Homo sapiens: one gene and its partners. The protein of the gene in region 1 interacts with the protein of each later gene in a biochemical or structural test. Each region holds a gene or a part of one and is shown in the gene's direction. Other genes may lie near its edges. The genes, in order: HDAC7, PARD3, MAGI1, GOPC, DLG2, DLG1 and PDZRN4.

Region 1 (3,500 bases):
GAGTGGCTGGGGTGCCCACCCCCACTCCAAGCCCCCCCAGCTTCTTTCACTCCCTTTTCTTGCTGCCTCACCCCATCATCTTCATTGTTCTCTGCTGGAATCTTCTTCCCCGTGACTTCTCCCGCCTCTCCCCCAGGCTGACAGTGACCGCAGGACCCATCCGACTCTGGGCCCTCGGGGGCCAATCCTGGGGAGCCCCCACACTCCCCTCTTCCTGCCCCATGGCTTGGAGCCCGAGGCTGGGGGCACCTTGCCCTCTCGCCTGCAGCCCATTCTCCTCCTGGACCCCTCAGGCTCTCATGCCCCGCTGCTGACTGGTGAGTCTGCTGCTTCTTCAGGGAAGGGGCTGGGTCCCTGCACCCTGCTAAGAGCCAAGCTTGGGATGGACCCATCCTTCCTCCCCATCTCTGTCCCCCTGTCCTGCGCATTGCCCTGCTGCACCCTGGCCCCCCACCCTATACCCTCGCTTCCTTCCATTGCTCCCTGTGGTTCCCTCCTTATTCCACCCCCCGATTCTTTCCAGTGCCCGGGCTTGGGCCCTTGCCCTTCCACTTTGCCCAGTCCTTAATGACCACCGAGCGGCTCTCTGGGTCAGGCCTCCACTGGCCACTGAGCCGGACTCGCTCAGAGCCCCTGCCCCCCAGTGCCACCGCTCCCCCACCGCCGGGCCCCATGCAGCCCCGCCTGGAGCAGCTCAAAACTCACGTCCAGGTGATCAAGGTGAGAGGAATTGGGCAGTGGAGGTATTGAGGGAGTGTTTAACTGGGGACTTAGGGGCCAAAAGAAGAGGGGTACTTAGAAAGGGCAGGGAACTGGAGGGCAAAAGAGGGGGATGTGGCTTCTTGGGGCCCAGAGCTGCATGGCAGCTGGAGTCCTAGCAAGATGACTGGCTGCCTGGCCCAGCCCACCACCTCCCACCCCATGCCCCTCGCTCCACCATGGCTTCTCAGCCAGGTTCTCCCCTCCCCAGAGGTCAGCCAAGCCGAGTGAGAAGCCCCGGCTGCGGCAGATACCCTCGGCTGAAGACCTGGAGACAGATGGCGGGGGACCGGGCCAGGTGGTGGACGATGGCCTGGAGCACAGGGAGCTGGGCCATGGGCAGCCTGAGGCCAGAGGCCCCGCTCCTCTCCAGCAGCACCCTCAGGTATGGCAGTCCCCACCTGCCCCTCAGAAAGTGTCCTCAGAAGACTCTGGGGCCTGGCATAAGATGGGGAAGGGAGGGAGATACGACATCAGTGCAACAGGCAGCTCTAGGACCCATGGTTGCCCTATAAGATCCTGGGTGCTGGATCCACACTAAGGTGTAGGCACACACACACATGCACACTCACACACCCATACACACACATACACACAACAGCTTGCCAGTCTCAGGTGAAGCATGTCCCTTTTCCAGGAAGGAGTCTGTCCTTTCCTGGAGCCACACATAGTCCTGCCCTGGTATGTCTCCCCTCTATCCAGAAAGGTGGCTAGGGCCAGAGGTGGGATGGAGCCAGGCTCCAGCGTGTCCAGCAGAATGCTCTCACTGTGGGAATCAAGACCCAGTGCATTAGCTTGCCGGAGCTGTTGGGATACAGGCTGGGCGCCTTAAACAGCAGGCATTTACCATCTCACAGTTCTGGAGGCTGGAAGTCAAAATCGAGGTGTTGGTGGAGTTGGTTCCTTCTGGGGGCTGTGAGTGTGAGGGCAGGGGCTGTTCCCGGTCTCTCTCCTTGGCTTGTGGATGGTCATCTTCTTCCTGTGGCTTCATGTGGTTTCCCTCTGTGAATGCCTGTTCAGATTTCCTCTTCCTATAAGGACAATAGTCATACTGGGTTAAGGCCCACCCTAACGACCTCATTTTAATTTGATTACTTCTGTTTGTAAAGACCCTATCTCTGAATAAGGTCATGTTTAGAGGTACTGGGGGTTGGGACTTCAACATATAAATTTGAGGGTGGGGAACATAATTTACTCCATAACACATGATGACAGGCCACACACATGTTCTTGAACAGTTACATAGTCCAGGACAGGAGGACATCCTGGTCAGCACAAGATCCAGCGCCCCTCCCCTGGTTCCTGGCTTTGGAGCCCCAAGGGCCCGGGGAGCTGGTGGAATGGGTGGTCAGTCTGGGGTGCAAACCTGTCAGGGGGCTGCAGGGGACAGGGGGCTTAGAGAGTCAAAGGCCAGAGCCCCACTGGACAGCAGGTCTAGGTTTATCCTGGAATCTCTCTAGGAAAGGGGCCTGCTTGGCAGTTCCCAAGACCTCAGGCAGAAGTAGAGGGAGCAGGACCCTGAAACACTGGAGACCAAGGCCCCATCTTTCCCCTAGGTGTTGCTCTGGGAACAGCAGCGACTGGCTGGGCGGCTCCCCCGGGGCAGCACCGGGGACACTGTGCTGCTTCCTCTGGCCCAGGGTGGGCACCGGCCTCTGTCCCGGGCTCAGTCTTCCCCAGCCGCACCTGCCTCACTGTCAGCCCCAGAGCCTGCCAGCCAGGCCCGAGTCCTCTCCAGCTCAGAGACCCCTGCCAGGACCCTGCCCTTCACCACAGGTGAGACCGGGAGGAGGGTGGCGGGTGGAGGGAGGGGCTCGGCTGCACGAGTCCATGTGGGTGTCTTGGTGTCACTTGGGACATTTTTAGAGGCCACAGAGTGCTTAGCCTTGTTAGGCCCACGTAGTACCCATGGAGCACATGGAACAGCTGGTTATTGCATTTGGCCGATGAGGACCAAGGCTCACGAAATCTAAGGTGACAAGCCTGTGGTCAAATAGCAAGTGGTAGTCAAGCCAGGATAAGAATTCCAGTCTCCTGCCAATGCACTCAGCCCTTTTAAAAAATGATATTTATTACTGTTGCTCTGCTTGTAAAAAGAGCTCAGAAGTATTTTAGACATTTTGAAGAGTACAGAAAAACCTAAGAAGAAAAGAAAAATCACCAACCAGTATCCCACCACCCAGAAGTAAACCCTCTGAAATTCTGCTGTATTTCAGTCCAGGCTTTGTTCTGGCCATATGTACATGTACAGATGCCATGAACACATGAACTACGTTTTGTATCCTGCTTTACTTAGTTAACATATTATGAATCCTTCTTGGCATAATTAGTCTTTAAAACTGAGAGTCTCATAGTATTTCATTAATGTATTTCATTTTTACTGAGGGATCCCTTATCAGTTAGACATTTAGATTATAGCTTATTTGAATTTCCTTATGCATAAATCTTTCCTCATGCTTGGGATTATTTCCCAAGGTTCACTCTAAAGAAGTAGCATTCCTGGGTCACATGGTGTGAGCATTTTGAGAGTCGTTGGTGTCCTAGACGCACAGAAATTGACCCTCCCACCCGCAATGAGCAGGACCCTCCTCTGAAGACTTCCCACGGGTCAGACTGAAATAGTCACTTCTCCAAAGCTGGATTTGTCTATCACATGGTCCAGTGTCATCGTGGGCTTCTTAGCTCCCGGTTTGGGGGTTTCCTAGGAATTCTTTTCCCTCCTGCTGCCCCTTGGTAGCCTC
Region 2 (3,500 bases), on another chromosome or scaffold:
GTTGTGGAGGGAATATTTAAAGTCCCACTTGGATGCAAACCCACAGACGGATCCTCCGTCTGTCCTGGGAGGTTCTACCTCCCCACAGAGTTGGGTGCAAGTTGGTGATGTTGAGCTCCCCATAGATGATTAGAGCCCTCGGTATTTTTTATCAAGGATGGAAATAAACATGTAAGATTGGGCCAGAAGGTGCTTTCTATAGGTAATTTTCCATCGGGGGAGATGGCATGCTAAGCCCACACAGCATGCTTTCATCCTGCTTGGCCACTCGCTCAACATTCCTGGCTGGGACCAAGGTCAATGGCAGTAGAGCTGGACATCAGTAAATGTATACAGTTTTACCTGTTTTGGGTACCTTTTCTGTACAAAAGCAAATCTTTATCAAAATAAATGCCGAGTTCAGTGAATAAAGTAGAAAGATGACTGATTTTTTTTTGTCTTTTAGTCATTATTTACAAGTTTTTTCTTTCTTTCTTTTGTTTTTTTTGAGACAGGGTCTTTGTCACCCAGGCTGGAGTGAAGTGGCGTGATCTCTGCTCACTGCAGCCTCAACCTCCCAGGCTCAAGCGATCCTCCTGCCTCAGTCCCCCAAGTAGCTGGGACTACAGTTGTGTGCCGCCACACCTGGCTAATTTTTGTAGTTTTTGTAGAGACGGCATCTCGCCATGTTGGCTAGGCTGATCTCAAACACCTGAGCTCAAGCAATCCACCTGCCTTGGTCCTCCAGAGTGCTGGGATTACAGGCACGAGCCACCATGCCTGGCCTAAATTTTAGCAAATAAGTAAAAATAACTTTGTTTTAACTTATTTAGTAAATAAGTAAACATTTTAGTAAATAAAGTTAAAATAACTTTCGTGTATAGGTCTGTGCCTTCTTGCATCTGGCCTGCTATCTTTACGTGGTTTTTGCCATTTAAATATTACTTTTGTGTATTCCTTTTTTCTCCATCAACTCATATTGGTCCTTGCAAGTAAAATTTCAAGCTCCACATCCAAGTGACTTTAAATATCAATTATTTATTTTTTTCACCTAAACAGAGTATATTTTGTATATAGTCTCTGTACTCTATTCTGTATATATTTTATATATACTCTTTATATATATACACACACACACAAGCACACAAGAGAAATGAAAATGTGTACACAAAACCTGTACATCAGTGTTCATAGCAGCAAGCCCACATATTGTATAATTCTGTTCCTATAACATGACCAGAGTGGGTAGCTCTATAGAGACAGTAGAGTGGTGTTCCGCTAGGACTGGGAGTTTGGAGTCATGGAGACTGTGAATGGGTATGAGGTTTCCTTTTGGGATGATGAAAATATTCTAAGATCATGGTGATGGTTGCACAGTTCTATTCAAGTGTATACTTTCAATGGATGGAGTTTATGGTTATGTGATTATATGTCAATAAAGATGTTAGAAAAATAGACTGCATAAGCCACTATGAACAACGCTCCATTTTTAGGTATTTTGTAGTTCTGAGCATTTCATAAAATGACATATATATGTGTATCAGAGATGCTCAAAACACTTCAAATGAAAACTGGCTGTCTTTAGGAGTTTTCCATATAGTGTGGAATCCCTGCTTTCTCAGGCCTGTCCAATGTGTCCTGTTTAGTGTCTGGTAAGCTCCTGGCTGCTGAGCCTCCAGGTCCCCTGGTCTCTGTGTGCTACCCCCTACCCCCTCTAAGGGCTTCACCAATTGTTCTTTAGCCAGAGACTCCTTCTACCCAGCTCGCCAGCTACCTTTGTGCAGTGGAGGTTGAGAATGCCCCAAGGATGCACGTAATGGACCAGCCTTTCCAGCATTTGGCTTTGGCTCCCAGAAATTTTGAGCTTTGGCAAATCTTACAAGCTCTGTGAGCCTCTGTTTCCCCATGTTCTCATATTCAGAGGTGCTGGGCTGGACTCCCACTGCCAGTTCCCTGAGCTGTGCAGGGACTCCTGCTCTGCATGGTTTGTTTTGGTGCTCATGGGACCATAAGTGATGTGCAGTGGCTTTTCAGATGGTTATACAGGGTCCAGGACCTCTTACTGCTTCCCTCCATGCTGTGAGAATATTTTGCCTCACCCCGACCCCCCCAACTTTGAAATGACGGGGCTTGCTCTCCAGGTCAAATGGATGCTATTCAGAGTTAGGGTAAATTTTGCTTAGGGTTGGCTGGGTGAGAAGGCTCACGCCTGTAATCCCAGAGCTTTGGGAAGCTGAGGTGGGAGGATTGCTTGAGGCCAGGAGTTCAAGACCCAGCCTGGGCAACATAGTGAGACCCCGTCTCTTTTTAAAAAAATTAGCCAGGCATAGGCCGGGTGTGGTGGCTCACGCCTGTAATCCCAGTACTTTGGGAGGCCGAGGTGGGTGGATCACGAGGTCAGGAGTTCGAGCCTGGCCAAAGTAGTGAAACCCCATCTCTACTTAAAGTACAAAAAATAGCTGGGCATGGTGGTGCACACCTATAATCACAGCTACTTGGGAGGCTGAGGCAAGAGAATCACTTGAATCCTGGGAGGCAGAGGTTGCAGTGAGCCAAGATAGCGACACTGCACTCCAGCCTGGGCGATGGGGAGATTCATCTCAAAAAAAAAAAAAAAAAATTAGCCAGACATGGTTGTGTGCATCTTTAGTCCCAGCTGCTCAGGAGGCTGACGTGGGAGGATTGCTTGAGCTCAGGAGTTTGAGATTGCAGTGAACTATGATGGTGTCACTGCACTCCAGCTTGGGTGACACAGCGAGACTCTGTCTCTAACAGAAAAAAAAAATTTGTCTAGGGTGTCCTTCAGAATTTCCTTCCTTCTTCCTTTTTTTTTGTCTTTTTGAGACGGAGTCTCGCTCTGTCGCCCAGGCTGGAGTGCAGTGACGTGATTTCGGCTCACTGCAAGCTCCACCTCCTAGGTTCACGCCATTCTCCTGCCTCAGCCTCCCGAGTAGCTGGGACTACAGGTGCCCACCACCACGCCTGGCTAATTTTTTTGTATTTTTAGTAGAGGTGGGGTTTCACCGTGTTAGCCAGGATGGTCTCGATCTCCTGACCTCGTGATCCGCCTGTCTCAGCCTCCCAAAGTGCTGGGATTACAGGCGTGAGCCACCGCGCCCGGCCCCAGAATTTCTTATTGTCTCAAGGTAAGTATCTTTTAATGTAAATCACATCATGCTCAGAAGTGACTAAGACAATTCCCTTTGTGAATTACAGATGTATGATATTGCATGATACGAACTGTACGGTGTATATATATATATATATATATATATGCACATACGTGTGTATTTCTGGGGTGATCTTTTATGGTGGTATAAATTTAAGTCATTTTAGAGATGATAGTCAAGTCAACATTCTCCCAATCTTGGTGTTTTTAACTATTCAGACACTGTAAGATTTAAGGTTTTGGAACTCAGATGTATATTTTTCTAGTGTCTGGTTTTTCCCTTCTTGTATTTGAGACGGAGTCTCACTTTGTTGCCCAGGCTGCAGTGCAGTGGCAGAGTCTCGGCTCACTG
Region 3 (3,500 bases), on another chromosome or scaffold:
TGAATTCTAAACTTGGATTTCTGCAGTGAGATTTTTTTTTAGGAGAAAGCTCCAATGTTCTGTGAGTGATTATTACATTCTCATTAGCAGGGAAGACACTAGGTGCTGAAAGAACACTTTATTAGCTGTTAAAATCAGTAATAGAAGCACTTTATACCCTATAGTATCACACCCACATGCAGTTTCAGTTCAGCTTTATGTTAGTGGGAGATATTATAATACTGATGACAATTTTCTGGGTGCTGTTTTCTTAACCCCCACACTCTTGCCTTCTACAGGGGATGTGATTGTAAGTGTGAATGACACCTGTGTTTTGGGACACACACATGCTCAAGTTGTGAAGATCTTCCAGTCCATCCCCATTGGTGCCAGCGTGGACCTTGAACTCTGCCGAGGTTATCCATTGCCTTTTGATCCAGATGACCCCAATACAAGTTTAGTGACCTCGGTAGCCATTTTGGATAAAGAACCAATTATTGTGAATGGGCAAGAGACCTATGATTCACCAGCTAGCCACAGTAGTAAAACAGGCAAAGTCAATGGCATGAAGGATGCCAGGCCAAGCAGCCCAGCGGACGTGGCTTCAAATAGTTCTCATGGTTATCCTAATGACACTGTTTCTTTGGCTTCCTCCATAGCCACTCAGCCAGAACTCATAACTGTTCATATTGTCAAAGGGCCAATGGGCTTTGGTTTTACTATCGCAGACAGTCCTGGTGGGGGTGGCCAAAGAGTGAAACAGATTGTTGACAGCCCAAGGTGCCGAGGCCTGAAAGAAGGGGATCTCATAGTGGAAGTTAATAAGAAGAACGTGCAGGCCCTAACTCACAACCAAGTGGTGGATATGCTGGTTGAGTGTCCTAAGGGAAGTGAGGTCACATTGTTGGTGCAACGAGGAGGTAAGTAGGGTTGTTTTGTTCTTTGAATTTTTTTTTTATCCCAAATTCATTGCTTAACTTACTCATCTTCAGATGACCACTGGGGGCTTTTTAAATTTATTTAAATGTTTCAAAATGCCTACTGATTTCTCCAAATACTAACCTCTTTAGCATAAAAATTGTGGTTTATACATTATGACAGACATATGCAGTTAGAATGATACCTTAAAACAGAAATCAGATTTTGCCTTTTTAAAATGTTAAGATTTAAAAACCTAAGTTGGGTGTGGTGGTACCCACCTGTAGTCCTGGCTGCTTGAGAGGCTGAGGCAGGAAGATCACTTGAGCCCAGGCATTTGAGTCCAGACTGGGCAACATATTGAGACCCCATTCTCTAAAAAGTTTTTTTATATATATATAAAAAATAATAACCTTTATCCTTTAAATCTCCTGAACTTGGCCTGCATAGCCTGCAAAATGTGGCTATGGTCACTCCAAACTTGTCTCATGTTCCTCTCCTCCATCTGATGGTGCTTTAGCCACACTGGCTGCTTTTATGGAGCTCCTTTAATGCTTCAAGCCTTTTCTTGCCTCAGGCCCTTTGTATTTACTGTCCGTTCTGCCTGGAATGGTCCTTTCCCAGCTCTTCCCAGCTGGCTCAGTCCCATTCAGGTCTCCTTATGAGAGAGGGCTTCTCCCATCACTTTATCTAAAGTAGCTCCCAACACTTCCATATAATCTTTATCACAGTTTTTCATAACCTTGATCATCATCACCTTTTTAGCACAAGACGTTATTTCATGCTTTTATTTATTTTTCATTATTTGTCTTTCATTAGAATATAAAGCTCCATAAAGCCAGGGCCCATGTGTGCATGTGGACAGCTGTTATCCCCAGCATTTAACACAACACCTGACTCCTTTTAGGTATTTATGAATGAATAGGTATTAAGTGAATAGGTATGTGATTATTTCTATTTGGCAGAAACAAGAGGTCTGCTAATCATATTAAACACTTCCCTCCACATGCTCGCGTTTAGTAGTTTAGGATCTCAGAGATCTGGGTTATTCTAAATCTCGAGGCATTAAGCTTCCTCCTTTCTCCTTGAGTCCGTATCCCACCCTCTGCCTCACCAGAAAACACAGGACGTCACACTGAGCAATACTTTCCACCATATTGAAGTGTCTTGCTCCTGGAATATATACTTATATGTGATTAGTCGTGACTGATAGTTTTACACAGTGGGCCTGAGAATGGCTGTTTCCCTGATCCTTGCTACCATGATTTGTTTCATGAACAACATATTCAGGCCTTTTGAAAAGAGATCAAGAACCAGACTTTGACTTCCTTTTGGTTTGTTGCAACAGGAGAGCTCATTTGTGTCACAGCAGCCAGATTCTCATGTTTTCATGAACCTGTGTGTTCTGCGATCAGAATGGCTGGGGTCATTTGAAGGAAACCCAAAATACAGAGTAGCTGTCTATGTGAATTGAAATGCTCAATGAGCCTGGCTTAGGCAGTTATAAAAGGCATTGTGCAAATTTTATTTTTTTTAAAATGTCATTTCCACCAACTAATTTTCAAGTCTCTTCTTGTACCTAGATCACTTGACTGCTCAGAGAACTGGTTTTAAACAGTAGCCAAGATGTATGTAGTAGGAAATGACTTGGGTATAAGAACGATTATGACAATAATGATGATGGTGATGATGAAACCTGGCACTTATAGAAGAATCAGTGATACACAAAGCACTTTCATACCTGCACGTGCCTCTCCACTGATATTTGTCACTTCCCTGTGAGGTAGGAAGGTGCCACCCCACAGTAGTTCTGAGCTGTTCACCCTGGCTCTGTGGTTTCCAGTCCAATGTTCTGCCCTACTTAACTGAATAACACTGATTTTTGTATAGTTGCTTAATACTGAGGCTGACAGCCTGGAAACTTTCAAATAATTCTTGGTACATCAGGTGCACCTCTGATTCAGCCACTGCTCATTTGACAGACACAAACCACCTTGTTCTCCTAACTCATCTATCCTCTTTCTCATTTCTGTTATTGATGTGGTTTATTATCCCATTAGATTCACTTCTAAGGAGACCAAACATAAAGTTTCATTATAGCCAACTAACTTACACATGTATTAGAACCATATTGTAATGAATTCGCCTAAGCCAGCAAACAACTGATTATAGAAACGTACTCCTTGATTTTATTTTTTATTTTTATTTTTGAGACAGGGTCTCACTTTGTCACCCAGGCTGGAGTGCAGTGGTGCCATCTCAGCTCACTGCAGCCTCAACCTCCTAGTTTCAAGCGATCTTCCTGCCTTAGCCCCCCAAGTAGCTGAGACTATAGGTGCATGCCACCACTCCCGGCTGATTTTTGTATTTTCAGTAGAAATGATTTCTCCATGTTACCCATGCTGGTCTCGAACTCCCGCGCTCAAGGGATCCACCTGCCTCGGCCTCCCGAAGTGCTAGGATTACAGGCATGAGCCACCACACCTGACTATACTCCTTGATTTTAAATATGTTTGCATTCTCTCTTCTTAATTCCCAATGCCATCTTCTCATTAATGGTGTTACATTTTATAACATTTATATGAAAAATCCGGAATATATTG
Region 4 (3,500 bases), on another chromosome or scaffold:
TGGGAATGTAAACCACCAACCACTATGAAAAACAGTGTGGAGATTCCTCAAAGAACTAAAAGTAGATCTACCATTTGATCCAGCAACCCCACTCCTGGGTATTTACCCAGAGGAAAAGAAGTCATTATATGAAAAAGATACTTGCAAACATGTTTATACTAGCACAACTCATAATTGCAAAAATATGGAACCAGCCCAAATACCCATCAATCAATAAGTGGATTAAAAAAATGTGGTGTGTATATATACAGACACCTGGAATATTACTCAGCCATAAAAAGGAATGAAATAGTGGCACTTGCAGCAACCTGGGTGGAATTGATTGGAGACCATTATCTAAATGAAGTAACTCAGGAGTGGAAAACAAAATGTATGTTCTCACTCATACATGGGAGCTAAGCTAGGAGGATGCAAAGGCATATGAATGATACAATGGACTTTGGGGATCTGGAGTAAAGGGTGGGAAGGGGATGAGGGATAAAAGATGACACATTGGATACAGTGTACACTGCTCAGGTGATGGGTGCACCAGAATCTCAGAAATCACCACTAAATAACTTATTCACATAACCAAACCCCACCTGTTCCCCAGAAACCTATTGAAAAAACAAAACAAAACCCAAACAAACAAAACAAAACACAACTGAGTTCCTTTCCATTGTGAGGCCTAGAGAGGCATTGGAATGAAACCGCAGTTATGGCACTCCCTTTTGACCTAAGCAGTTATCTCTGGAAGCCACCTTCTATGTAGGATTTAGACTAACTGACGCCAAGTAGCCATAAAATACCATATGCTGGACACCATAAGTCATACCTTATAGTGCAACAATGAATAGCCAGTCACTAATCAGTGATTGTAAACCAATGAGAATTCTTATCAAGCAACTTTGTATCTGCCTTGTTCCTTTTTCCCTTTAAAATCTGCTTGTAACTCAGGTGCCAGAGCACTCCCCAGGCATCTGGGAAATATGTGTTGAGTAGCTGTCCTCATTTTGGCTCAGGTAAACTAAAGTATATTTTGTGCCTCAGCCTTTTCCTTTTAGGTTTACAGTAGGAATAGTAATACTAGCAGTAGTAGGTGTGTTGGAATAGAATAAAGATTGTGAACCAATACTTTAAAAAATTCACCTCTGCCTTGAAAGAGTGTTCTGCCTGTTACTCCTTTTTTAAAGTAACAGCACAACAATACACCTTCTTTCACATCCTCCTTTCCCTCAGCAATTGCTCTGTTAGTATCTCTTTGAAGTGATTTATTATTCATAGCCAACAGTAGAGAAACTTTTAACTTTGATCTAGAGCCACATTGATAATGAACTGGTGATATGCTTGTCCCTTTGCTGCTTTAAATCTGTCCTGTTTTTAAATAGGCTGTTTTGCAACATTGAAGCTTAAGTTTAATATTGATCCAGTACGCACTTATGAACACGAATTATGTGCCAGATGCTGTATTGGGCACTTAGGATACAATGGAGAGCAAAAAAGGGATGTAGTCATGGCTTTTATGGAGTTTGGATTATATTGGAGGAATTTGTTGGGAGAATAATCATGTAAATGAGAAATTGCAACTTTGATGAATACTATGAAAGGTACATAAGAGTAAATGAGACCCTATTTTGGGATGTCAGAGAAGGCTTCCCTGAGGAAGTTATTGAGCTAAGACATAAAGGAATTATGTGTAAATAGGAATGAATTAAGCTAAGAGAAATAGGAATGCCATTCAACATTGCCGTAGAGGGAATGGGAAGTGAAAAGCACCTGTGGTGGGCAAGCGCATAGTGCATTTGAAGATTCGAGAGATAGTTGGTATGTGTAACAAGAGAAGAGGGCAAAAGAAGCAAGGCACAAGATAAGTTTGAACAGACAGAGAGGGACTATTTCTACATGACTTTATGGCCATGCAAAAATATTTGGGGCTTTATCATAATCGTGGGAAGTCTTTTAAACCAGTTCGTAGCCTCAGATATGAAGTTAGAATAGTTCACTCTGACTATGGTATGGAGAAAATTGCAGAGAATGACATGAATGAATGCAGAAAATTGTTTAGAAGGTTTCTGTTTATGTGAGATTATGATAGTGTGGAGTAAGATAATAGAGGTAGGAGAAGGTATTCAGAACAAGAGAAACTGGAGAGGTAAAAATAAAAAAAACCTAGAGATGGATTGGAACAGAGGGATGAGGGAGTTCAGGATAAATCCAAGTGACAATCTTGTGCAGCTGGTTGCCTGAATAGATAGATGAATGTGTTATATTATTAGCAATAACAATATTGCCAACTTTATTGATCAGTTACCATGGGCCAACCTCTCTTCTGAGTCTTTTACATAGACTGATTCATCCAATTCTCACAACAGTCCTGGAAACAGGTTTATTAGTATAGTTACTCCAACTTTACAGGGATTAAGTAAGAGGCCTGAGGCTACGGAGCTAGAGAAATCAGTCTCTGCACAAACACATTATGTCTGATGGGGGATGGAGGAGGTGGAGAGAGAAGCAGACAGAAAGAGTGAGTGTGGCTGAATAGATAGCAAGAAGTGAGATTGTAGGGTACAAGGGAGGTTTTGTTTTCATTTTGTTTTTAAATAAAAACAAATAAAACATAAGTCTGTGAGAAGCATCTACTTGAGAGAAAAGCCAAATATAGAAAAAGAGTGGGGTAGTTAATATTAGTAAGATTTTGTAATAACAGCTACTTAGAAGAGGGAGAGAATGGGAGCAGACAGTAGGAGGTTGTGGAAGTTTCTGTCTGATGGCTTTTTTTTTTCTGTAAAATAGGAGCCCACGTCAGTTGCTAAAAGTAGGTGAGAGTAAGAGCATGAGGCTAGTAGAAGAGGTTTGAGATAGTAATGGAAGAGTGGGAGAGCCAATTGGCCAGAGAAACAGGACTGCCAGGCATTGTTGAGGAATGGCTTGGGGTTAGTTATCATAAATTATGGTGCAACCGGTCTGTACTGTTGTGTGATTTTCTCTAGCAATGCATATCTGTTTAGGTACAGGCACAGTAATGAGAGTAATAACTAGGTTTATTCAATGTTATAGCAAAGGAGTTTGTTATACAGACAAGTGTGTTATTGAAGTGAAAGTGGTAATGGGGCTGATGAAAAGGAGATAAATTGAAGACTAAGGAAGGAGAATTGACAGGATTTGATAATTATGTAGATGCAGGAGATAAGAGAAAGGGTTAAGGATAACACTGCATTTCTGTTTGGGAAATGATTGATCAGTATCTGTAGTGGGTTGAATCGTATCCCTCCAAAATTCATATCCACCCCCAAAACCTCAGAATGTGACCTTATTTAGAAAGAGGGTCTTTGCAGGTGTAATTATGTAAAGATGGAGGTAAGATTATAGTGGATTAGAGGGGGCCCTAAATCCAATGAAAGTGTGCTGATAGGAGACAGAAAAGGCCACACACAGACACAGAGAAGAAGGCTATGTGATGATAGAAGCAGAGATTGGAGTGATGTATCTACAAGCCAAGGGATGCCAGTGATTGCCAACAG
Region 5 (3,500 bases), on another chromosome or scaffold:
CATCAGCACTTGCTGCTTCACCTTGCACTTTTATGTTGTAAAGATGACTTCTTTCCTTTCACCTCATGAACCAACCTTTGCTGGCTTCCAGCTTTCTTCTGTGGCTTCCTCACCTCTCTCAGCCTATATAGAATTGAAGAGAGTTAGGGCCTTGCTCTGGATTAGACTTTGGTTTGAGGGGAATTACAGCTGGTTTGATCTTCTGTTCAGATCACTAAAACTTTCCCTATATCAACAGTAAGCGTGTCTCTCTTATTATTCGTGTGTTCACTGAAGTGGCCCTTTTAATTTCCTTCAAGAGTTTTTCCTTTGCATTCACAACTTGGCTATTTGGTGCAAGAGGGCTGCCTAGCTTTTGGCTTATCTCAGCTTTCAACATAACTTCCTCACTAAGCTTAATCATTTTCTAGCTTTGAGTGTGAGAAATGTGTAACGTTTCCTTTCACTTGAACACTGAGAGGCCATGGTAGAGTTATTAATTGGCCTAACTTTAATATTGTTGTGTCTCCAGGAATAGGGGGACCTGAGGAGAGGGAGAGAGATGGGGCAATGACCAGTTGGTAGAGGAGTCAGATAACACACAACATTTACAGATTAAGTTTGCTGTCTTATGTGGGTATGATTTGTGGCGCCCCAAAACAATTACAATGAACATCAAAGATCACTGATTACAGATCACTGTAACAAATAAAAGACTAATGAAAAAGTTTGAAATATTGTGAGAATTACCAAAATGTGACGCAGAGACATGAAGTGAATATATCCTGTGGAAAATTGCCAGTGATAGACTTGTTTGACACAGGGTTGTCACAAACTTAATTTGTGAAAAACGTGTTGTCTGCAAAGTGCAGTAAAGCAAAGTGCAATAAAATGAGCTATGCCTGTACCTGACTTCATTGAGTGGCCTTGTGTGGTTATTTTATTCCTTTTGCAAGCATTTTACCAAATTTGTATTTGAATTTTCATGTTTGCCATACCAGTAATATATGGAGAGCTTGTCTTTTTTTTTTTGAGACGGAGTTTTGCTCTGTTGCCCAGGCTGGAGTGCAGTTGCGCAATCTCGGTTCACTGCAACCTCCACCTCCTGGGTTCAGGCGATTCTCCTGGCTCAGCCTGCCGAGTAGCTGGGATTACAGGCGCCTGCCACTGTGCCTGGCTAATTTTTTCATTTTTGGAAGAGAGGGGATTTCACCATGTTGGGCAGGCTGACCTCAAACTCCTGACCTCAGGTGATTCATCTGCCTCCACCTCTGAAAGTGCTGGGATTACAGGCATGAGCCACTGCATATGGCTGCACATGTTTTTTCTGTTTTCCAAAACTTCAAGTTTTTTTTTTAATCTCTTCACAGCCATAAAACTCAAAAGAATTAAGCACTGAATCATCCTAGAGAAAGATGGGAAAACACAGTTTTCAAACTTTTGCATTTTCTGTAAGTCAAAGTAAAATAGACAATTTACTAAAGTTTTTTTTTTTAATTTAAAATTCCCCAATTAAAAAAATTAGCTGGGCTTGTTGGCATGTGCCTATAGTCCCAGTTACTTGGGAGGCTGAGACTGGAGGATTGCCTGAGCCCAGGAGTTTGAGACTGCAGTGAGCTGTGATTGTGCCACTGAACTCCAGCCTGGGTATCCCATATCTTTTTTATTTTAAAAGAAATTCCCCGTAGGGACAATTTTGACCTTGGATAAGCTATAGACTCTTGATATTGTAAAATATTAATTAATCCAGGAGGCATAAATAGAATGAATTCCAGAATGAGAAATAGAAGAATACTTTTTGTGTTTAACTACTGATTAGGAGTTTGCTATGAAGCAACTTAGTGAGGAAGACGTAGAGATAAAATGATCTGTTAATTGATTTTATTTTACATATCTATTGGGAGAGTACAAAGCATATGCTAATGACTTGATACTAGAAAATGTGTGAACTTCTGGGTTTTTGGAAATCTGCTCAAGTGTTTTTATTTATGATAGAATATTTGATTTCTCCCTTAGGCCTATTATTGTTTACTTTTGTGGGTAGAAGAATCTAGTCAGTGAGGTATGCACAAAACATTGGATTTTACTTATTTATTTTTAAAAAACTTCAACTTTTTCTTAGATTCAGTGAGTACATGTGCTGATTTGTTACATGAGTATATTGTGTGATGCTGAGGTTTTGGATATGAATGATTCTGTCACCTAGGTATTGAGCATAGTACTCAATAGGTGGTTTTTTAGCCCTTGCCCCACTAGTCCCTTGCGTAGTGTCTATTGTTCCTGTCTTTATGTCCATGTATACCCAATTCTTAGTTCCCACTTGTAAGAACATGCGGTATTTTGTTTTCTGTTTCTGTGTTAATTTGCCTGGGATAAACATTGGGTTTTTAAAATGTTGGATTAAGGCATTCTGTTCATTCATGCCTTTGTCAATAAGTAAATTTCTCACTGTTCTGTAAAATACATTTACTGAACTATACGAATACTATACTTTCTTAAATATATATTCTCCTTATATGCTTATTTCTTAATACTATGTTACCATGTCAGTGATTACAAAATATTTTTTAGTATAAGGGAGAGATTTTTTTTTTGATTGGGATAAGGGAATGTGTTCTCCAGCTACAATTCTTGCCCAGGAATTTATGGCAGTCAAGACACAAGTATTTCTATATCCTCAATGTAGGTTGCTTTGTCAGCAAAGGATCATGAGTTTTATCCAGTCTCTTCTGTCCAGTTAGTCATTCTGAATTCCAACTAATAAGCTTTCCGCATGGGTTCAATTTTTAGTAAGTTTTCAAAGCTATTTCAAGAATTATGGCCAAATCACCTTCATTATGAAACGATTCTCCTGACCTCCTTTATTTTAGGATTTAAGATCAAGAGGAATGGTATAGTATAATAAAGTAGAAAATCCTGTGAAAATGAATTATTAAATTTAAACTTTCAAAGATTATGGGTAAGATTTTTGTAACCCATTTCTTCTGGTAACACCATTTTGCTAGCCACTGAGGCCCTAATTTAGGATACAATTTTGAAGCTTCTATCAGGGGCTTATCATTTTGAAGGACTGTGACATCTTTATCATTAAAAGCATGGTAATACTTGGAATAAACCTATTAAGTTCTGTTCTATTTAAACATCTCTCATAGGTAATAAACAAGCTAAAATTCTTTTAAAAGGTAAACTGGTGTATATATGGTGTAAACTGGTGTATATATTTAAGGCAATGACTCTACTTTCATTTATTTATTCAATCATTTATCCATTCAACAAAGGTGTATTATGAGTGCCTGCTATGTGCCAGGCATAGTGCCAGATGCATGTTTGAAGTAGCAAATGATATTCAATCTCTGCCTGTATGAATCTTAAAATATATTAGGAAGACAGATGCAAAAACAGGCAATTTCAATGCTGTGTGGTGAGGTTAACGCTCTTTGTCAAGAAAACAGACAAGGAACACTCAATCCCACTAGGGAAGATGTAATATTTAAGATGAGATACAGAAGATGAATAGAAGT
Region 6 (3,500 bases), on another chromosome or scaffold:
AAATAGGATTGTGGGATCATACGGCAGTTACATTTTTAATTTTTTGAGGGCCCACCATAATGTTTTCCATAGTGATTGCAGCATTTTACAGTCTCACCAGCAGCACACAGGATTTCCAGTTTCTCCACATCCTTGCCGATACTTAATTTTTTTCCTTTCTTTTTTTGATAATAGCCATCCTAATAAGTGTGAGTATATGACTCCTCTTCAAGTGTATGTAAAACATAATAACCAACATTTATTGAGCACTTTCTATGTGCTAATACAAATATATCATTTAGTCATTGTAATCCTGTGAGGTGTACATTCACCTGTATGAGGTGTTTGTACTGTTTTATAGACTGGAAAACTGAAGCACTGAGAAATGACCAATCTTGCCCTTGGACCCTCAGATGCTAAATTGCGGAGCCAGAAATTGAACTCAACTAATCTGAATCCATAGATACTTCTCACCGTCAACCATTGGGATATTCTTTATCGTTGTTTTTCAGAACTGAGTATTTTAATCTGATAAAGAATACTAAATGACAAGCATGCTTAAGACAGATAGCAATCTTTAGGGTTAGTAATCTTTAAATGATTGTCACTTTGAAGGAAAATATTTATAATGGTGCATTATGTTTATGATGATGGAAATCACACATTTTGAAAACAGTGTTTAGTAATCAGGGTTTGAGATCTTCCAGCTATAGTGGTAAAATGTCAAAATTTCTTAAATTTCTTTTGCATTATATTAGTCCCACTGATGTTACATTTTAGTCTCTTGCTAACTGTGTGTGTGTGTGTGTGTGTGTGTGTGTGTGTGTGTGTGTAACTTTGTAGGCTAGATTTGAGTAAGGAAAACAGGATATGGATCACATCGTTGGCTGAAACTTCCTGAAATGGAGAATTTTAGTAACTTCTCACTTGATGGTTTTGATTCAATTAGATTGAGTTCTTTGCTCATAGTTTGCTTACTACTGCTCTGAAGCAGTGTTTTGATTATGTTGAATCTGGCTGAATTCTCTTTAGAACCTTGGAATCAGAGTTGTAAAGGCATCTAAATATTTCTTCTAAGCCATTTCCTCTCTGCAGGGTCATATTTTTCCTCAGTGCAGAATCCAGACTTGGACCAGATATTACCGTTAGTTGTCACGTCTCTTTACTTAGGGCACATTTCCACAGCTTTTCTTTGTCTTGTGTGAGACTGACTTTTTTTTTTTTTTTTTTTTTTTTACTATTTGGAGACAGGGTCTTGCTCTGCCACCCAGGCTGGAGTGCAGTGGTGGCTTACTGCAACCTCTGCTTCCCAGGCTCAAGCAATCCTCCTGCCTCAGGCTCCTGAGTAGCTGGGACTACAGGTGTGAGCCCCCACGCCTGGCTAACTTTTTCTAGAGACAGGTGTTGCCCAGGCTGGTCTCGAACTCCTGAGCAAAGTTCTGGGATTACAGGTGTGAGCCACTGCGCCCAGCTGAGATTGATGATTTTGAAAAACGCAGTTCCTTCCACTCTTACTTTTTTTTAATATAATTTTCTCATTTTGGGTTTGTCTGATGTTTCCTTGTGATTAGATTCAGGTTTTGTATTCCTGGCTTAGGATTCTGTACATCCAGAGGTACACAGAGTCATCTGCTCTTTGTTGATGATACTGATTTTGATTACCTAGTTGGGTGTTGTCTGAATTCTGTATCCTATAGTCATTGTTTTTTACCCCTTGTGGCTTATAGGCAATATGTGGGGGAGACACTTTAACACCATGTACATATCCTACTCCTTAGCAAAATTTCCACCCATATTTAGCATCCATTGATGATTCTTGAACCGGTTTATAATATGGTTGTTGAAAAGTAAGATTTCTAACAGTAACACTCCTAGGTTTACCAGTTAACACTTTGCATTTTATTCTAAACAAGAGCCTTCCTTCTTTTTTTCCCGTGTCTTTCATGAACTTGCAGATACCTGTTTTTTTTTCAATGACTTATCATTTATTACCATCCTTAATGACATTTGTGCTCTGAGTGATCCAGTGGGGGCCCTTTCAAGCTTGTGTCCTTATGAGATGCCCTCATCATTTTTTGGAGCACTTTCTTAATTTTTGGCATAACAAGATGTTCCAGGTTTATCTTGTACCTCTCCTGCCCCAGCCCTGGAATCAGCCATTTCTCTGAGAAGCTCTGGTTCCTTTTAGTACACACCTTGTTTTATGGAATATGCTTGTGAGTCATGTATGATTCTTAGTCTAATAGTATCTAAAGTATTCAAGTGATTTATTTTTGCCTACTAGCTTGACATCTTTCCTTTCTTTAGTGTGTGAAACAATAGTACAAACTTTTAAATTTTATAGGATATTCTTTCTTCTAGGGGTCAAAAATGACTTTTTAAATGAACATTGGTTTAGAAGAAAGAGTATTTGTGCTTGAGTAGATTTGACTATTGTGGTATTATCTTAGTATGTCATCTGCCCTTCACTGATGATGTTAATTTTGATTACTCAATTGGGTATTGTCTGAATAATCATACTTGCTTTTAGTAAATGAACTGATAGAATTTTTTTCCTCTGAAATGGTAGGGTTATATTTCAGTGTTCTTCAGCTTTCTAGTTGCCTTTCCTGTAACCCTCCAAAATAAATTTATTATAAAAATGATGCATGTTCTATATAAAACATTTGAGATCAGATTATTATATGTAAAATACCATAAGAAAATATTCACACCAGAGGTTACCTCCTACTTCATCCATGGGATGAATATCCTGGAATGTTATTTGTGTGTGTGTGTGTGTGTGTGTGTGTATGCGCGTGTATACACGCCACCCCCCACCTTCATTTTGCAAAACAAACTTCTAAGTAAAACAGTTATTTCCCTTGTGAGAATTGATACTTAAAATCAGCATGTAAGGTGAAAAACCTCATCTAGTTAAAATTATCCCTGAAAAGCCTTCAGAAATTTAACACTAGCTCTTGTTAATTACAGCACAATTGTTTTTTTTCCTCTAGTGGAAAGGAATGATTTCTTCACTTGAGCCCTAGACGAAGCAACTGGCTTGTTTGACTTCTTGTACTAAAAACACGTAATTATAGAATCACACTCAGCACAGTGAGATATAGCAAGAAGCTCACATTTTGAGAGGCACATGAAAACTCAGACTACCTAAAGGAAGAATCTTCTTCCTTCTCATTTTTTTATTTGTGACAGTCACTTATTGGGTAGACAGAGTTGCCCTTTTTTGCAGGGGAGATATACTGCAGTTGTATTTGTATAAGTGTGAATAGTATGATTTCTCTGTACTATACATATTGTTTTTATCTTCTAAAGTTTATCGACAAATGTCTTTCCATGTCAGTAGATTTCTACCATTTTATGTATGTATGTATGTATGTATGTATGTATTTTTTTTTTTTTTTTTTTTTTTTTGAGACAGTTTCACTCTTGTTGCCCAGGCTGGAGTGCAATGGCTTGATCTCAGCTCACCACAACCTCCGCCTCCTAGGTTCAAGCGATTCTCCTGCCTCAGCCTCCTG
Region 7 (3,500 bases), 6.6 Mb from region 1:
CATTTCAAAAAAGGATGATAAATCTCTGTTGAGGAACATTTCTGATGAGGAACTATGATTATATTTTAAATTTGTAATTAATATTTTATATGTAGAGTTTGGAATAAATTATACAATACTTTTAATATTTCTTGGTGTAATATGGCTACCTTGTTCCTGTCATTATCTTTTATATGAAAGAAAAAGAGAAATACCTTTTTTTCTCTTTGTTGTGAAAACCTGGTGAGAACTCTTTGTATGTTTTAACTGTATTGTTGTATTCGGGGGTGATAAAGTGAGCACCTATATGCTAGTAAAATTGGGTTATGTTAATGAAATTTTATGTCCCTGCCATCTGCCATCTCTGTCCTTTTGACATTTTATTAACTGGTTAAGATAATATTACTTTTTGTTGCCAAAAATGGTTAAGTTACTTTTATCAGTGAGTTTATTTCCAATGGATTAGTGAAGCTATAAATAGGAATTTGGAAGGTTTACTTGACTCCACTATTGTTTTTAAAAATTCTGTTCACTCTAGGCTATATAATCACTAGTGCTATCTCTCTGAATACTTATATAAACTATCAGAATGGAGGCAGATTTTCTATATTAAATTTTAAATAAAGTTTTAGCTTTTCATTCATCCTCTGTGCACTAAACAAAGTTGAATTTTTAATGAATCGACATAGAGTAAGAGTGAAGAATATAGAAGACCCAATAGTTTGCTGTTTTGGGAAAAAAGAACACAACATTTATAAATTAGCCGACTACAAAATTTAGAAAAAAAAGAAGAGTTATCTTTTGCCAAAAAAAAAACTTTGATTTATATCTAAAGAGGTCTCTTGTATCAAGATTTTTATTCTTCCAGTTTTGTTGCCGAGAAAGTGCAGACCTACTTTTGCTGTTGCTATCCAGTTCATCTTGACAATTTGTCTAGTGGAAACATTCACATGCTGTAGCTTCTAAAGTTAGAATGTGCACAGTATGATCTAAAGGGCAACATACTTTAAACAGAAGATTGTCCCTATTACTTTCTGCATTATCTCAAAAACATATTAAGTTGTCCAGTTACCAATGGAAAATAAATTCCTACATTTGATATTATTAGAAGAACTGATGGAACTGAATACATATATTGTTACACCCACACAAACACATAGACACAACAGAAATACGTATTGGCAATTTAAAAAATAACTTATTCTAGCTAGATGACAATATTATGTATGCTTCATTAATGTTACATTAGAAAAGAAAAAGAATTTTTTATATTGTCATACAACAATTTGGTTACAAACCTACTGTTTTTTTTAAAGAGGTAATTTTATAAAACTATGGTTGAAAATCAAGTGCATCTAGACACCTACATAGTACTGTTACTAATATATGTCAGATTAACCTTATTTAAACCCTGTAAGATAAAAAGTAAGGAGGTCAACCACAGAAATTCAAATGAAATTTAACTAGCTGCGGTATTATTATTCACTTTCATTTGCATATATTAGCAGTTAATGACTAGAGCTTGAAATTTGTCTCAATGATATAGATTTTTCAATGTGTCTTTTATACCAGGGTACATTGATTTTATGTATATATGCTATAGTTGTAGAATGGATCAATGTGACCACATTTGCAGTTAAGAAATGGGTTAGATGAGGTGCATATTTCTAGAATGTTGTGTGTTAAATAGCATGAAATATTTTAGAAAGAAGATTATTAGAAATAAATTGCTCTTGCTTAGTTGTTCAGTGATGCTATCGGCTTTTTGAGTGAATAGATATTTGTGTGACTTTAATATCTAGTTAAACAAGAAGTGTGTTTTTTCTTGTGCATATGGTGTGTGTTGTAAAAGATCCCTATGTAATCATTAAAGTTAGAAATATTTGATGCTTATCATTATTTTAGTTTCTCTGTCATTATGATATCAATCAACTTTAAGCAGTTTTTAGCTAATTGGAAATTGAGAAGAAATCTATCAATTTAAAATGTGCAGATGCATATTTTAAAACAGATTTTTAAAGTAAAGATAATAATTTATTTTCTGTTTTGTGATCAAAGATTTGTTCATTGAACAAATTTAATGGCTCAATTTTTGAATTTCAAATGGTCATGCTGATTTAAACCTGGTGCAACAAGTAAGTTTGTTAACAGTGTAAAGGGTACAAACTAGTTCATATATTATAAAATTATCCGTATGACTTATGCACAATCTGACACATTACTAAATGCTTTGAATTTACTGATATATAACTGAAATAAAAAATAAAAACAATAAGAGATTCTATGGTTTATATATAGTCAAGATATGCTCAAAAATATTTTCTGTAGCTAATTGCTTGATGCACACATACAAGTTTATGAATTGTTTTTAAAAAATAATAAAATTTTCCAAAGTTATTCACTTGAAGAGGAAGTAGACATGTTAAAGGTTTTGTTCTGTTGGTGGTTAAAAAGATTTTATAAACTCTAATAAATAATATATTAGTTATAATAGTTTTGCCACAGTTCAACAAAGGCTAGTAACACGTATTATTTTTTAATATTTGCATTCTATTGATAAAATTCAAGAATAATAAAAGAATAAAAAATTACTGTCATTAGGTAAACCTATGTCATATTTTTCACATAATATAAGGCAAGTTAATTTTTGGAGTCAGTCTCCACAAGCAACTATGTTAACCAGTTTCTAGCTATTTCCACATCCATATTTGTTAAACTATTTATGCTTGTAAATTTTAAAAAATCAGTTGTGATAGTTGAGTTACACTAGGTGTCAAAATATCACTGGAGACTGAAAAGGCAGAAGATATTGTTGAAGGCATTTTGAAACATCACAGAAATTCACATACACCAAGAATTCACCACAGTATACAGCTGAATAAAAGCATGCTGTTTTTCATTCTTTCAAGAATCAAAGGAATCACAGAAAATCCCTGATCCTATCGAAGGTTGGGCACAATTCTGGAAGAAGGCATGACCATTGCTGTAGTTATCATCATGTTAGGATGCCTAAGTGGTATGTGGGAGGGAGTTGAGAAACAAAGTTCACTGTTGCTTTTAGCATCGATTCCTCTATTCTTTCTTTCTTTCTTCTTCTTCTTCTTTTCCTTGTTTTTTCTGGGTTTTTTTTTTTGGAGACAGGATCTTGCTCTGTCACCTAGGCTGGAATGCAGTGGCATGATCACAGCTCACTGCAGCCTCTACCTCTGGGACTCAAGGTATCCTCCAGCCTAAGCCTCCCAAGTAGCTGGGACTACAGGTGCACCCCACCTCACCTGGCTAATTTTTTAAAAATTTTCTGTAGAGATGGGGTTTCACCATGCTGCCCAGGCTGGTCTTGAACTCCTGGGCTCAAGCGACCTGTCCACCTTGACCTCCTGAAATGCTGGGATTACAGGCGTGAGCCATAGTGCCCAGTCTCCTCTCTTATTTCTATGATACTGATAGCAGGCAATGCAACCATAACTCCAGAGTGGGAAAGGGTGGATAATCATTCATGGCTCTTTGTTTACACTTTCTTC

Evidence for each region.
Region 2: the proteins of HDAC7 (region 1) and PARD3 interact in a test that uses a peptide from one of them, tested with the Homo sapiens proteins (one large-scale study listed by IntAct).
Region 3: the proteins of HDAC7 (region 1) and MAGI1 interact in a test that uses a peptide from one of them, tested with the Homo sapiens proteins (one large-scale study listed by IntAct).
Region 4: the proteins of HDAC7 (region 1) and GOPC interact in a test that uses a peptide from one of them, tested with the Homo sapiens proteins (one large-scale study listed by IntAct).
Region 5: the proteins of HDAC7 (region 1) and DLG2 interact in a test that uses a peptide from one of them, tested with the Homo sapiens proteins (one large-scale study listed by IntAct).
Region 6: the proteins of HDAC7 (region 1) and DLG1 interact in a test that uses a peptide from one of them, tested with the Homo sapiens proteins (one large-scale study listed by IntAct).
Region 7: the proteins of HDAC7 (region 1) and PDZRN4 interact in a test that uses a peptide from one of them, tested with the Homo sapiens proteins (one large-scale study listed by IntAct).

What each region holds. Positions count from the first base shown.
Region 1 is NC_000012.12:47,792,404-47,795,903, reverse strand, and holds part of HDAC7 (histone deacetylase 7), read left to right. Parts: intron 1-136; coding exon 137-317; intron 318-523; coding exon 524-720; intron 721-970; coding exon 971-1,144; intron 1,145-2,315; coding exon 2,316-2,535; intron 2,536-3,234; coding exon of another isoform or gene 3,235-3,245; exon of another isoform or gene 3,246-3,500. UniProt on the Homo sapiens protein: Responsible for the deacetylation of lysine residues on the N-terminal part of the core histones (H2A, H2B, H3 and H4).
Region 2 is NC_000010.11:34,805,297-34,808,796, reverse strand, and holds part of PARD3 (partitioning defective 3 homolog), read left to right. Parts: intron 1-3,500. UniProt on the Homo sapiens protein: Adapter protein involved in asymmetrical cell division and cell polarization processes. Seems to play a central role in the formation of epithelial tight junctions. Targets the phosphatase PTEN to cell junctions.
Region 3 is NC_000003.12:65,426,919-65,430,418, reverse strand, and holds part of MAGI1 (membrane-associated guanylate kinase, WW and PDZ domain-containing protein 1), read left to right. Parts: intron 1-278; coding exon 279-899; intron 900-3,500. UniProt on the Homo sapiens protein: Plays a role in coupling actin fibers to cell junctions in endothelial cells, via its interaction with AMOTL2 and CDH5. May regulate acid-induced ASIC3 currents by modulating its expression at the cell surface.
Region 4 is NC_000006.12:117,592,512-117,596,011, reverse strand, and holds part of GOPC (Golgi-associated PDZ and coiled-coil motif-containing protein), read left to right. Parts: intron 1-3,500.
Region 5 is NC_000011.10:85,617,345-85,620,844, reverse strand, and holds part of DLG2 (disks large homolog 2), read left to right. Parts: intron 1-3,500. UniProt on the Homo sapiens protein: Required for perception of chronic pain through NMDA receptor signaling. Regulates surface expression of NMDA receptors in dorsal horn neurons of the spinal cord.
Region 6 is NC_000003.12:197,288,613-197,292,112, reverse strand, and holds part of DLG1 (disks large homolog 1), read left to right. Parts: intron 1-3,500. UniProt on the Homo sapiens protein: Essential multidomain scaffolding protein required for normal development. Recruits channels, receptors and signaling molecules to discrete plasma membrane domains in polarized cells.
Region 7 is NC_000012.12:41,194,820-41,198,319, forward strand, and holds part of PDZRN4 (PDZ domain-containing RING finger protein 4), read left to right. Parts: intron 1-3,500.